Linked DNA regions of Homo sapiens: all the other regions are linked to region 2. Evidence: fine-mapped expression QTL. A gene starts in region 2. Each other region holds a variant in brackets. All regions are shown on one strand. Distances are from middle to middle.

Evidence for each region. PIP is the estimated chance that this variant, and not a neighbour inherited with it, causes the effect.
Region 1: its variant is the best candidate, but not a certain one, in a credible set for the expression of SSRP1 in esophagus muscle (GTEx, PIP 0.69).
Region 3: its variant is the best candidate, but not a certain one, in a credible set for the expression of SSRP1 in whole blood (INTERVAL, PIP 0.53).

What each region holds. Positions count from the first base shown.
Region 1 is chr11:57,313,348-57,317,537 of GRCh38, forward strand. It overlaps TNKS1BP1 (tankyrase 1 binding protein 1), which reads right to left. Exons shown (of 12, transcript NM_033396.3): 5 at 1-542. Among named protein-coding and RNA genes, the nearest start is that of TNKS1BP1, 9.5 kb to the right of the region's middle. The variant T/C (reference allele first, on the strand shown) is at 2,075.
Region 2 is chr11:57,333,952-57,338,173 of GRCh38, forward strand. It overlaps SSRP1 (structure specific recognition protein 1), which reads right to left and starts at 1,941. Exons shown (of 17, transcript NM_003146.3): 1 at 1,779-1,941; 2 at 1,117-1,289; 3 at 512-697. The coding sequence starts at 1,170. It also overlaps a transcript of P2RX3 not described here. RefSeq lists enhancers at 1,110-1,179, 2,030-2,079 and a silencer at 1,680-1,859.
Region 3 is chr11:57,292,164-57,296,385 of GRCh38, forward strand. No RefSeq gene overlaps it. Among named protein-coding and RNA genes, the nearest start is that of TNKS1BP1, 31 kb to the right of the region's middle. RefSeq lists a silencer at 4,218-4,222. The variant C/CT (reference allele first, on the strand shown) is at 2,080.

The DNA.
Region 1 (4,190 bases), 21 kb before region 2:
AGCGAGCCCCCCAGCTTCTCCTGGTCCTGACTGGGTGACTGGAGCACACCTTCAGAGAATCGGCGCTGAACCAGGCTGGTGGGGCGGAGGTGTGCGTCACCCTTGGCCTCCTCCTCCCCGCCAGATGGAAACGTCCGAGTGAGATCCAGCAACTCACCCACCTCGATCAGGGGCCGGGGTGAGGTGGCAGGGGGCTGATCCAGGCTATGGGGCTCCAAGACCTCAGGGGGTGGGCTGCTGGGTCTGGGGGCCTCTGGAGCCCCCTCGGCAGGGAGCCCCGGGCTGGGGGTGTGGCGGGAGCCCTCGTCAGGCAGGGCTGCACTTGGAGCTGATGGAGTCACAGCGGGGCAGGGAGAAGCCTGGGAAGCTTCAGGAGTCTGGGCTTCCAGAAGCTGTGAGTGGCAGGGAGAACTCTTATCAGGCGGGTGAAGATGGGGAGAGCCAGGGCCTGAGCCTGAGGCTTCTGCGGGGAGGCCTGGGCTGGCAGGGCCTCCATTCTCTGAGGAGGGGGCTGGACTTGAGGGAATCCAGGGCTTGGAAATCTGCAAGAGAAAGAAAGGTCAAGATCCGTCACTCACCTCTCAGCGGGGCGGGGAGGGTCCCCTCCGACCCCACACAGACCCCAGGTCAGCTTCTCCCAGGCTGGGAGGAGGCAACTGGAACCCGAGGGGGTCCTCTTGGGATAGCTGGGAGGGGCCCCACAGACGACTCAAGGCAGGACTTCTCACAGAGCCCCCTTTAGACCTTCTTCCCCAGAATGCGCCTATCCTTATTCACAAAGCATAATTCCTTTCGTCTCAGGTGGTTGGAACCCCTCACCCACTCAACCCAAAGCTCATGTGAGGATCTCCTCAGAGGCCACAGTTCGGGGTCCATAACACCTGCTTTATAAAGGGAAAAGGAACATTGTGAATCTGGCTCTTGAAGCACCTCAGCATGTGGGAGTCGTGAGGGGAGAGAGGGTTTCGCGTCCAAGCAGGATTCGAGGTGCAGTGCAGCTACAGAGCAGCTCGGGGGAGTGGCTACAGCGTGCAGGGGGTGCCCCTCATGGCACAGAAGGTGCCAAGGAAGCAGGAAGGCTATGGGACCCAGGCAAAAGGCACTGGGGGGTGTGACAGCGCCTGGCTTGAGCCGTCCCAGCACTGCCTCTTACCAGCATGTGCCCTCCCTCACATATGGCAGACACTTGGTCTCTCTGAGCCTCAGCTTCCCCATCTGTACATTAGGGCTGGTGGCAACAATGCTCATCTCCCAGTTAGGTGAGGGTGAAGGGAAATGTGTGCACTGGCCCCTCGGCATAGGACTCATGGGATGATGGCGGCAGAGAGTGGGGAGGACGTGGAGAGAAGAGGGGGACAAACAAGGCACCAAGCACCTGGCACTCCACCTGTCCCCAGACAATGAAGTGACTCTGGCTCCATCTGACCTTTGCCCTCTGCAGAGGTCACACTTCCCTGGCCGCCCTCTCCCATGTCGTTAATTCTCCCACATCATCACCTACTAGGCCTGGGCAAAATAAAGGGTCCTGCTTGCTTCTCAAGGTCCCTTCTGTTCCCTCCATGCTCACTCCCCTCTGCAACGTTCTAATGTCAAAGCTCGTGCCCTTAAACTACAGCACCCACAATTCTTTCTTGTTATTGACCCTTACGCACCCATCATTCCTTGAAAACCATAACCGCTGCATCACTGCAACCCTCTCCATCATTGTTGTGATAGCTTACAGTCATCTCCATAGCCAGATGCGACCCTTCCAGCCTCTGGTTCGTTGACCTCCTCTTCCTCAGTGACTGTGCGACCCATCCTCTCAAGGTCACACCCTAGACCTCATCCTTACCAGTGGCTGCAACCTCTGCATCATCTCAATCCCAAGTATCCCACTTGCCCACCCCCACCGCCTATCTGACCGGCTCACTCTATTTCCCCAACGCCCTTATTTTCAGCCCCTCTCATAGCACAGCCCCTTAACCCTAATTCTTTCTCATTGTCCCCCACTCCCCTCATACCCTCACCTCTCTTCTTATCACCATTAACGTCACTTTTTACTCAACACTCAACTCCCTCATCTGCTTCATCA[T/C]ACTGTTTAACCTGTTTAAATACAGCTCTCCAATACAGCTGGGCCAATCCTAGCCCAGCACCTGAGTAGCTGCATGTGGCTGGATAAAAACACACAATCGTGACAGCTGGTCTCACTCCAGATTCACTGCTGACCTCAAGCCGGCCCTAGAGCTGCCCAGAATCCCACGGCACTCCCCCTGCCATTCACTCCATGACTCTCCCAGGCAATGTTTTAGCATCTTCTCCCGTCAGACCTCCACACCTCCCCCAATCCTCTCTCAGCTGATGGCCTTGCTTCCTGTTCCCTGAGAACACAGAGGCCACCAGCAGAGAACCCCCGACAACCCCCCCACCGCCACACACACACACACCACCTACTTCCTGCATGGGAGCCCAAGCACTCTGCCTCCCCTTCTGCTATCAGGCACTGTCCTCGCTTGGGGCTGAGGTCAATCCCTCCTCTCTCTCCTGCATCGATTTTTTTTTCCCTCTCTACTGGATCATTTCCATCAGCACACAAACTGCTCTAATTTCTTCTGTCTTGAAAAGCCAAAAAAGCAAACCAAAAAACCACTCTTGACCCCACATCACTCACTAGCTACCATCCATTTTCTTGAAAGCCCTGTCTATATTCACTATTAATATCCACAGTTCTTCTTGTCCCCTTCTCTCTTGAAACCACTCCAAACAGGCTTTCTCCTTTACCTTGCCACCTAACTACTCTCGTCAAGGTCACGGATGACCTCCCTGGAGCTGAATCCAATTCTCTGTGCTCATCTTACTTGACCTGTCAGTGGCATCTGACAGCTGATGGCGCCCTCCCCCAGTCCTGGAGGCTGTCTCCACTTGGTGGACTCTCTCACTGTCCTCCCAGTCTCCTTGGCTGTGCCTCTGGGCCCTCCCCTCCTGCACCATCCCCACTCTCAGTAATCTCAGCCAGTCTTCACAAGCATTCCTACTCTGACAATTCCCAAGTGTTCCTTTCAAATTTGCTCACTTCCCTTGAAGGCCAGACTCGACTACCCAACCATCCGCTTGACGTTTCCACATGGATGTCTGAAAACCATCTCAAATTCAACAAATCCACAAAGCAAACTCCTCCCATCTCCCCCGATCCTGCTTCACCCTTAGAAGTCCCCGTCTCGGCAACCATAAACTCATCCTTCCGGTTGCTCAGGCCAAAAGCCGTGGGGTCACCCTTGATTCTGTGCTCTCTATCTATCTGAAAGTCCTTTCCACCATGCCTTCAAATTCTATCCAGAACCAACCACTTCTCCCCATCTCCACCGTAGGCTACCTCCAGGGTCCAAGCCGTCATCATCTCTCACTTGGACTATTCCAACAGCCCCCTGACTGGTCCATGCTGCTGATCTTACCTCCCTGCAACTGATTCTTAATCCAGTGGGCCAGGTGACTCTTCACAACTAAGACAGCAGCATCCCATGCCTCTCCTGCAAACCCTTCAAATGGCCTGTTGCTCTCACTGAAGCCAAAGTCTTTCTAGAGGCCTTCGAGACTTGACACAATCCAACCCCCCAACCCGTTGGTCCTCACTACCACCTAACTCCTCTCTCACTGCCAGGCAGACATCCTGGCCTCCTTGCCAGGAAAGCACCAATGCCTTTGTACTTGCTGTGCCCTCTACCAAGAATGCTGCTCTCCAGACATGCACACAGCTCAGCCTCTGCCCTTCACAGTGACACCTTCCCTGACCACACTCGTCCCTGCACTCTCTACTCTACCTTCACAGCTATCTCCAACATCCAGCTCCTAACAGGCGCTCAGTCACTGCTTGCTGGATGGACAAATGAATCAAGTCAGATCTCCAGCTAGCAAGGGCTGTATGAGCAAAAAGGGCCATCCTGTACCTTGTTTACTCAAGAAAGCAGGCTGACCATCTTCAAGAACGGGAGTATGATGGGAAAATCTCAGCAAAAGGACTCACCCCTCTTCTGAACTCAGAAAAGGCAGCCCAGCCAGGGAAAGCATGGGAGGCAGACACAGTAGCTGCTGCCTCAGCCTAAGTTACTTACCCTTTGTGAGTACAGGTGCTCTCATCTCTCACATGGGACTAACCAGGTCTACTAGCCAGAGTTATCACAAGGATTGAGTTGGTTAACGTTCCCAGGACAGGC
Region 2 (4,222 bases):
ACCAGACTGGGTAATGTGGCAAAACGCCGTTTCTACCAAAAATTATTAAAAATCAGCTGGGCATGGTGGCATGTGCCTGTGGTACCAGATACTCAGGAGGCTGAGATGGAAGGATTACTTGAGCCCAGGAGGCGGAGGCTGCAGTAATCCGAGATTGCGCCACTGCACTCCAGCCTGGGTGACAGAGCAAGGCCCTGTCCCCAAAAAAAACCAAAAACACACATACACACAAAGAAATCAAGCTAAGATTCTGAACCTTGATAAAAGCCACAGGCAGAAACTACTATCTAAATCAAGACAGAAGAAAATCTTCTGGAGTCAAGGCACACAGAAATTCACAAGACTTCAACGCTCAAAGCCAAACACTGATTGCCTGATGGCCTCACAGCCCTGCTCTAAGGAGCCCAAACTAGCAATCACAGGGTTACATGAGGAAGGAACCTCGAGTCTCTAGAAGATTAAAATAAGAAGATGCAGTAAAAAGGAGGCTTATAGCCATGGGACATCTCACCGATTCTCGGAAGCCATCATACTTGTAGACATGGCCATTCTTTGTAAGCAGTTTAAGTCCATGGCCCAGAGCAACACGGCGCCAGATACCTTCTGTTAACTCCCCAGCCTGGATGTTGTCCACTTTGCCTGTCTTGCTATTCTTGAAGATGATGCCCTGACGGCTCAACCTCAGTCGACCATCATTCTGTAAGAAAAGCAGGCCCAGATGCATGGAGACAGTACACAGCATGTCCTGGGTTCTACAGCTCTACCTAACACACATTCCTGCTGCAAGTGGACTGGCCAGATTATCAATGCAGGAGCAACAGCTGAGGGTGCCAAGGAGTCTAGATTCTAAACCAGACTCTGGTATCTAGAACCCTTAACAGATTCTCAGTTTCCTCATTTGTAAAACAGGAATTGGGAACTGAACAGCATATACGGTCCCTATAACTCTGAGACTATCTCTCAGTATTGCCTTGAGTTGGTGGAGACACTAGGTACACATTATACTGAGTCTTCTTTTTCCAAAATAACGTTACCAAAGCAAGCTCTCATTAATGGACAAAAACTCTACCCTCCTTCCTTCTCTCTACTTGTATCACCTGTCCAAGCCATTCTCACCATGGAACCTTTCACCTCCTGATAGACGTCGTTGAACTCCAGTGTCTCTGCCATGTCGACCCCTGCCTGTGGTGGCCTGGGCAGAGCCCCAGGCTGCACAAGGGAAACCAAGTAAACTGGGAGCTGGGCCCCAACTCCTGAGTGGGTGTGCGGATGCTCAGCAGGTTGGGAATCTGAATTCAAGAGGAAGACAGATAAGCATGAAAGACAGCACCTCGCTGTGCTCACGGATGGAGCCAGGTAGCAACTCCCAGCTGCGCCTGGATGTCTCAGGATTTCCTCTGCCTGGAAACCTACAGACGGACGCTGCAGTGCCCGAGGGTCCAGGTCCAGGCCTGGGTGGAGAACCGGGCCCGGAATACCGCTGACACCCAACCCGACGCCCGCTCTGGCCGCTCCGGCGGGAGCCATGGCAACGAGCAGCGGAACCCCAGGGTCTGCCAGGAGCCCGCACATCGCACGCGACCCAATCCAGCTCAGAGTGCAGGGTTTCCCTCGCACCGCTCCCACCACCCCGCGGCCCCAGACCCACGGTTCACCCCCGCCCCACATAATGGATTCGCCCGCTCCCCGCGGTTGCGAACGCGGAATGGTCCATGTCGAGGGTCCCGTGGGGGAGCGGGGCCCCTGCCTTCCTGGGACCGGGGACGACCACCACCTACCTCCTCAGGCTGCGGCCTCGCGAGGGCCCCGGCGCGAGAGGTGGGCGCGCTGGGGGGACGCGGGGGGGGCGCGGGGAGGGGGATGGGGGGACACCGGGGAAGCTTTTCCCGCGTGCGCGGCCCCGCGTCCCGCCACCGGAAGCCGTACACAGGCCACAGAGAGGATGAGCTGGCTAGAGAGACGCGAGTCGGGCCCGCCTGCGAGACAGTCGCATAGAGCGTCAGCGACTCTGGAGGACCTGAGGGAAGGGTGGTTGCCGTGAAGCCTCTCTCACCCAGGGGGAATCCGGCCTAGAAAATGTGTGTAGGGCTCTTTAGAAACTACAGACACTTCTTCAGTCGAGACTAGATACTAAAGAGAAATTGTGTAGTTTTATTGTATCAGACTTAGTACAGGGGTGGGGTGGGGGTGTGTATTGGAATGATGCGTGCCCGTTTCTCTGCAAAATAGTTTCTATGTCATGGAAAGGAGTCGATGGGACAAGAAGAGAAGTATTTGAACAGTTGTGGGAGGAAACGACCTCTCCCACTGGCTGCGGAGAGTATGCGGGTGTTGGTGTCATCGTGGGTGCACTGCTTTCTGGCTGAACTGTCAAGTTCACTGTCTACACCCAAAATTTTCACATCCTTAACCGAAAATTATAGGTACCTCCAAGAGGCTGGCAAACGGCCTTATCCAGTTCAAGTCCTGGTGTCAGATTCACCTTGGAGCCAGAACTGATTTGAAACCACATCATCCTGTGGTTGCGGAAGCCAGGTCTCCCCCGTATAATCCCAGAGTGCATTTTGCAACATCAGAGACCAGACCTGGAAAAGATGTTTTAGTTTTTCTACCCCAACCTCCTTTTACTGATGGGAAAACTGAGACCCAAAGGGGAGTGAGTTGCCCAGGGTCTCAGTGCGTTGGCAACAAGGCTAGGTAGGACCCAGACCTCCTTAACACCACCAGTCCAGTTATCTTCTGTCATAATCACAGTGACTGTATGTTCAGAATGACTATTGATATGTGTCCTACATGAAGACATTAGTACAGAATATGTAAGCTCAAGATTTCCCTGACAATCAATACACCAGCTTGCTAAATCAATCCTGGGGTAAGAGACAACAGGAATGCACCCTTCTCCCCTGAACTCATAGCTTTAACCTCTGAGTAGTGGCTATTCCAGCATTATCTAGCAAAATAAATTCAACTGGGTTTAATAAATAGATATTGAGGGCCTATTACTACTTTAGCACACTTCTCAGATTTGAGGAAACTTGAACAAGGTGAAAACATCCCCGGCCAGGCACGGTGGCTCACACCTGTAATCCTAGCACTTGGGGAGGCCAAGGCAGGGAGATCACTTGAGGTCAGGAGTTTGAGACCAGACTGGCCAACGTGGTGAAGCCCCGTCTCTATTAAAAATACAAAAATTAGCCAGGCGTGGTGGCGGGTGCCTATAATCCCAGCTACTCAGGAGGCTGAGGCATGAGAATTGCTTGAACCCAGGAGGCAGAGGTTGCAGTGAGCTGAGATTGTGCCACTGCACTCCAGCCCGGGTGACAGAGCGAGACTCTGTCAAAAAAAAAAAAAAAAAGAAAGAAAGAAAAAGAAAAAAAAAAGGAAGGGAAGGAAAGAAAGAAAAAAAAAAAAAACAGAAAAAAAAACCCAGCCCCAACCTTTCAGGAAAACATAATCTAACAAATGACTTTAATAAATAAAGTGACAGTTAAAAAAAAAAGAAGTTGGCACATATACACCGTGGAATACTATGCAGCTGTAAAACAGGATGAGTTCATGTCCTTTGCAGGGACATGGATGAAGCTGGACTCCATCATTCTGAGCAAATTATCACAAGGACAGAAAACCAAACACCGCATATTCTCACTCATAGGTGGGAATTGAACAATGAGAACACTTGGACACAGGGTGGGGAACATCACACACACCAGGGCCTGTCGCGGGGTGGGCGGAGTGGGGAGGGATAGCATTAGGAGATATACCTAATGTAAATGACGGGTATATTTACAGTTAACGGGTGCAACACACCAACATGGCACACGTATACATATGTAACAAACCTGCACGTTGTGCAGGTTTACCATAGAACTTAGAGTATAAGAATAATAATAAAAAGAAAACAAAACAAAAAAGACGTGCTAACTGCTATGCTACAGGTAGAGCGAAGCTCATTACCAGCTGGAGTTAGAAATATGTGACTCTTTACTCATCACACCCCAGAAGACCCAGAAAAACTTTCAAGAGACCTTTTCCCCCTGACCCATGCCACTGGGGGCAACTCAGGAAAGGAGGGGACGGCGCAGAACTGGGTGGAATTTGGCAGACACTCAGGAATGAAGAGGGTCCTTAGCTCAGGCAGGCTATTAGGTGACTGGGGGATGGGAAATTGCAAGGGGCTTTAGGGAGAGTGTGAGCAGCTGGTGAGCTGGGATGAGGATGCTGC
Region 3 (4,222 bases), 42 kb before region 2:
AACTGAGTCTGTAGCTGGGTCTGCATTTTTCAAATGGTCTATGAGGAATACTTACTGCTTTTGACATCAGAAAAAAAATTCAATGAACATTACTTTTTAAAAAAATGAATAGATGTTAGGCTCTTTGGAGACAGTACTATATACATAAAAGTATAACTAGAATCGTCCTTGGACAGCAACTAAAACCCATTTTATCGGCCGGGCGTGGTGGCTCACACCTGTAATCCCAGCACTTTGGGAGGCCAAGGCGGGCAGATCACTTGAGGTCAGAAGTTCAAGACCAGCCTGACCAACATAGTGAAACCCCATCTCTACTAAAAATACAAAAATTAGCTGGGCATGGTGGTGGGTGCCTGTAATCCCAGCTACTCAGGAGGCCGAGGCAGGAGAATCTCGTGAACCCAGGAGGCGAAGGTTGCAGTGAGCCAAGATCGTGCCATTGCACTCCAGCCTGGGCAAAAGGAGTGAAACCATGTCTCAAAAAAAAAGGCCAGGCGCAGTGGCTCATGCCTGTAATCCCAGCATTCTGGGAGGCTGAGGTGGGAGGATCACAAGGTCAGGAGATTGAGACCATCCTGGCTAACGCAGTAAAACCCCATCTCTACTAAAAATACAAAAAATTACAATTAGCTAGGCGTGGTGGTGGGCACCTGTAGTCCCAGCTACTCGGGAGGCTGAGGCAGGAGAATGGTGTGAACCTGGGAGGCGGAGCTTGCAGTGAGCAGAGAGCACGCCACTGCACTCCAGCCTGCGCAACAGAGCCAGACTCCGTCTTAAAACAAAACAAACAAAAAACAAAAAAACACCTTATCGCTCTGCACCCAGGGCCTGGCACTCTCCCCGGGGGAGGGCGGTGTGCTTCTGAACCTGCCAGCATTTTTTCTATCTATGATACACTTGCTGACAGAGGTCAAAGGGCTATCCTGGGTAAGCCCACACTGCTGGCTCAAGAGGCCCCAGGCAAATCAGCCCCAGGAAAATCTCGTCCATCAGCTTCTAGGCCAAGCCTCAGCCTGCTCTGTGTCATCAGTCTGGGAGGCAGGAAGACTGCAAAGGGTTCTCAGTTCACCATACGAACAAAAGACAAGACGAGACTCGCCAGGAATGTGTGGTTTGTCCCAGGCACTTTGTCCTGCATCCAGACCTCAAGCAGTCAGATAAAGCTGATTCTTTATTTTTGCACTTCTTTTAAAGCTCAGGCTCAGAGAGAGAGTCCCCAGCTCACAAGAGTCAGAAGCAGGATATAAACTCTGATCTACTCACTCCAGAGCTGCCCGCAAGAAGGACACCTGTCTCTACCCATCTCGGGAATGTGCCATGACCACAGCAGATGGCTGGACTACGTTTAGGAGACAGGATGCTGGAGAAAGGAAGTGTCAAGCAGTGGGCAGCACCCTTCAGACCTCCCCTGACACCAACCACCACCACCCCAATACTGAGGGCTCCATGGACAAAGGCCAGCTCGTTCTTGGGCCCAAACACCAGTTGCAGCTCCTGGATCCTGGGAAACGTGGGAGAGCACCAGTGACTGCTCCCTGGGCTCCACTGCTGTTCCATTCCCAAGGGCATCCTCCATCATCCTGGTGTCCAATTCCTAGGCAGACAGGCCCTCCCCTTGCTGAGGACCTCCAAAGCAGGGGCCAGGAGAGAGACGGTGCTGAGACATTTCTCACTGTAATTGCATTGGGACCAGATCCTTTCTCTCTCTGAGAGTTGGCAACAAGAACCCCCTGGGAGGAACAACAACTCAGCTTTCTAACAGGTAGCCTTCTTTTTTTTTTTTTTTTTTTTTTGAGATGGAGTCTCAGTCTGTCGCCCAACCTGGCATGATCTTGGCTCACTGCAACCTCTGCCTCAAGCAATTCTCTCACCTCAGCCTCTGGAGTAGCTAGGATTACAGGCGCACGTCACCATGCCTAGCTAATTTTTGTATTTTTAGTAGAGATGGGGTTTCATCATGTTGGCCAGGCTGGTCTCGAACTCCTGACCTCAACTGATCCACCCGCCTTGGCCTCCCAAAGTGCGGGTAGTACAGGTGTGAGCCACCGTGCCCGGCCACAGGTAGCCTCTCTAAAAGGC[C/CT]TTTTTTTTTTTTTTTTTAATACAAACACTGAGATGTTGGCTTCAAAGTGGTCCCCTGAAAGGCTGTCCAGTTATTCTAGTGACTTCTCCAGAGCTCATTCAACTCTTCAGAAATTGCCTTCAGGGCAACCTTTGACCAAAATTGGTCAACCTGCTTGATTGTCCAAAGTATTCCCCAATACGGGTAGCCAAAGAACTTTCAGCTATTTCCAAAATCCAAATCCAGGTTCAAAAGACCAAGACCTGCCCCTCTGAGGCTGCTCCCGAGAACCCTGGGCATAGTCTGAGAAAGGGCTGCATGGCAGACATATCATTACTTTCTCAGTTGTGTTATTGGTCAGACACCTGCCTTTAGGGTCAAAGCTTGTGTGTGTTGGCTTCCTCTCTCCCTGACTCCCAACAAAGGCTCTGAACCATTCCCCAGATGTTGGCAGAGTGTGAGACACCCTCCTCTGACTTCCCTAGAAGCATGGCCCCCTGCCTCTTCTCCCTCCCAGCACAGAGCCCCTGTGCTGGGATCAGCCCAGGCTCCATTTGTTCCTCTAATGAGTCTTAAGTATTTGGCTTGGGCTCCTGCCAGTCCTACTCCTACAGAGAGGAGGGAGTGGGAAGAATGGGACAAAGCTCATGCCAGCTCAGTTCTGCTGGGCCCTGGGCAGACTGGCACAGGGGCTGCCTGGCCCAGACCCACCCAGGGGTGCAGCCAGGAACCCATTTGAGGCCCACAGCCTTTCTTTACCCTCCACTTCAGGGGCTTCCCACAGTGCAGATTCCTGGGCATACTTCCTGGGTTGGAATCCTGGGGTGAGGCTCAGGAATGTGCATTTTTAATAAGCACCTCAGGAGATTGTGATGCATAATGAAGATTAAAAACCAGTGTTCCAGAAAGTCAATGACAGGGATTCAGGCTGGCTGGTGAAATTGTGTATATGTGCATTTTTCTAGAGTCCACAGTTGTCAAATTCTCACATTAGGTCAATAGTCCCCATAACCCTTTAAAAGTTTTTTAAAAACAAGCCCGATGTGGTAGCTCACAGCCTATAATCCCAGCATTTTGGGAGGTAGAGACAGAAGGATAGCTTGAGGCCAGAAGTTCAAGACCAGCCTGGGCAACATAGCAAGACCCCATCTCTACAGATAATTTAAAAAAATAATAACTTAGCTGGGCATGGTGACACATACCTGTAGTCCCAGCTACTCAAGAGGCTGAGGCTCAAGGATCACTTGAACCCAGGAGCTTGAGGCTGCTGCAGTGAGCCATGATCATGCTACAGCACTCCAGCCTGGGTGACAGTGCAAGAGGCCATCTCTAAAAAAAATTAAAAATTAAAACAAAAGGCTAAGAAGCACTAGTAAATGAGATGATTCCTAAGTTCAGTTGTAGCTCTGACCTGCCACAACTTGGTGACCCTGTTCAGGCCCCCATCAGGGCAAGCCCCCAGGATGCTCTCCTTTTACCAAATCTCAGAGAAAGACAAGGCTGGCCTTGAAAAAGGCTGGCAAGTCTGGGGGAAACCAGGATGACATAGAACTAGGCTGAGGGACAATAGGATGGCAATGGCCATGGGCTTGGGTGAGAAATGACACAGGTTAGGGGAAATTCTAGAATACCTGGGCTGAAAGGACCCTTAGATATCAATGAAGGCAAACCTCTGGCAAGAGGGGTAAATTTTTACCAATGTCAGGTCCTCTCTCTCTGGCCACATAGCTAAACCTCATTTCTCACTCCCCTGCAGTTGGCGGAGGTAATGAGTTGAATTCTGCCCAGTGGAATGTGGATCTCTGCTATGGTCTGGATGTTTGTGTCTCCCCAAAATCCTAGCCCCTAAGGTGATAGGTTTAGGAAGTGGAGCCTTTTGGGAGGTAATTAGGTCATGAAGGTGGAACCCTCATGAATGGGATTAGTGTCCTTACAAAAGAGACCCCAGAGAGCTCCCTTGCCCTTTCCACCATATGACAGTGAGAAGGCACTATCTATGAACAGGATGGGTGATATGGTTTGGCTCTGTGTCCCCACCCAAATCTCATCTTGAATTGTACTCCCATAATTCCCACATGTTGTGAAAGGGACTCAGTGGGAAGTAATTGCATCATGGGGGCAGTTTCTCCCATACAGTTCTCGTGGTAGTGAATAAGTCTCACG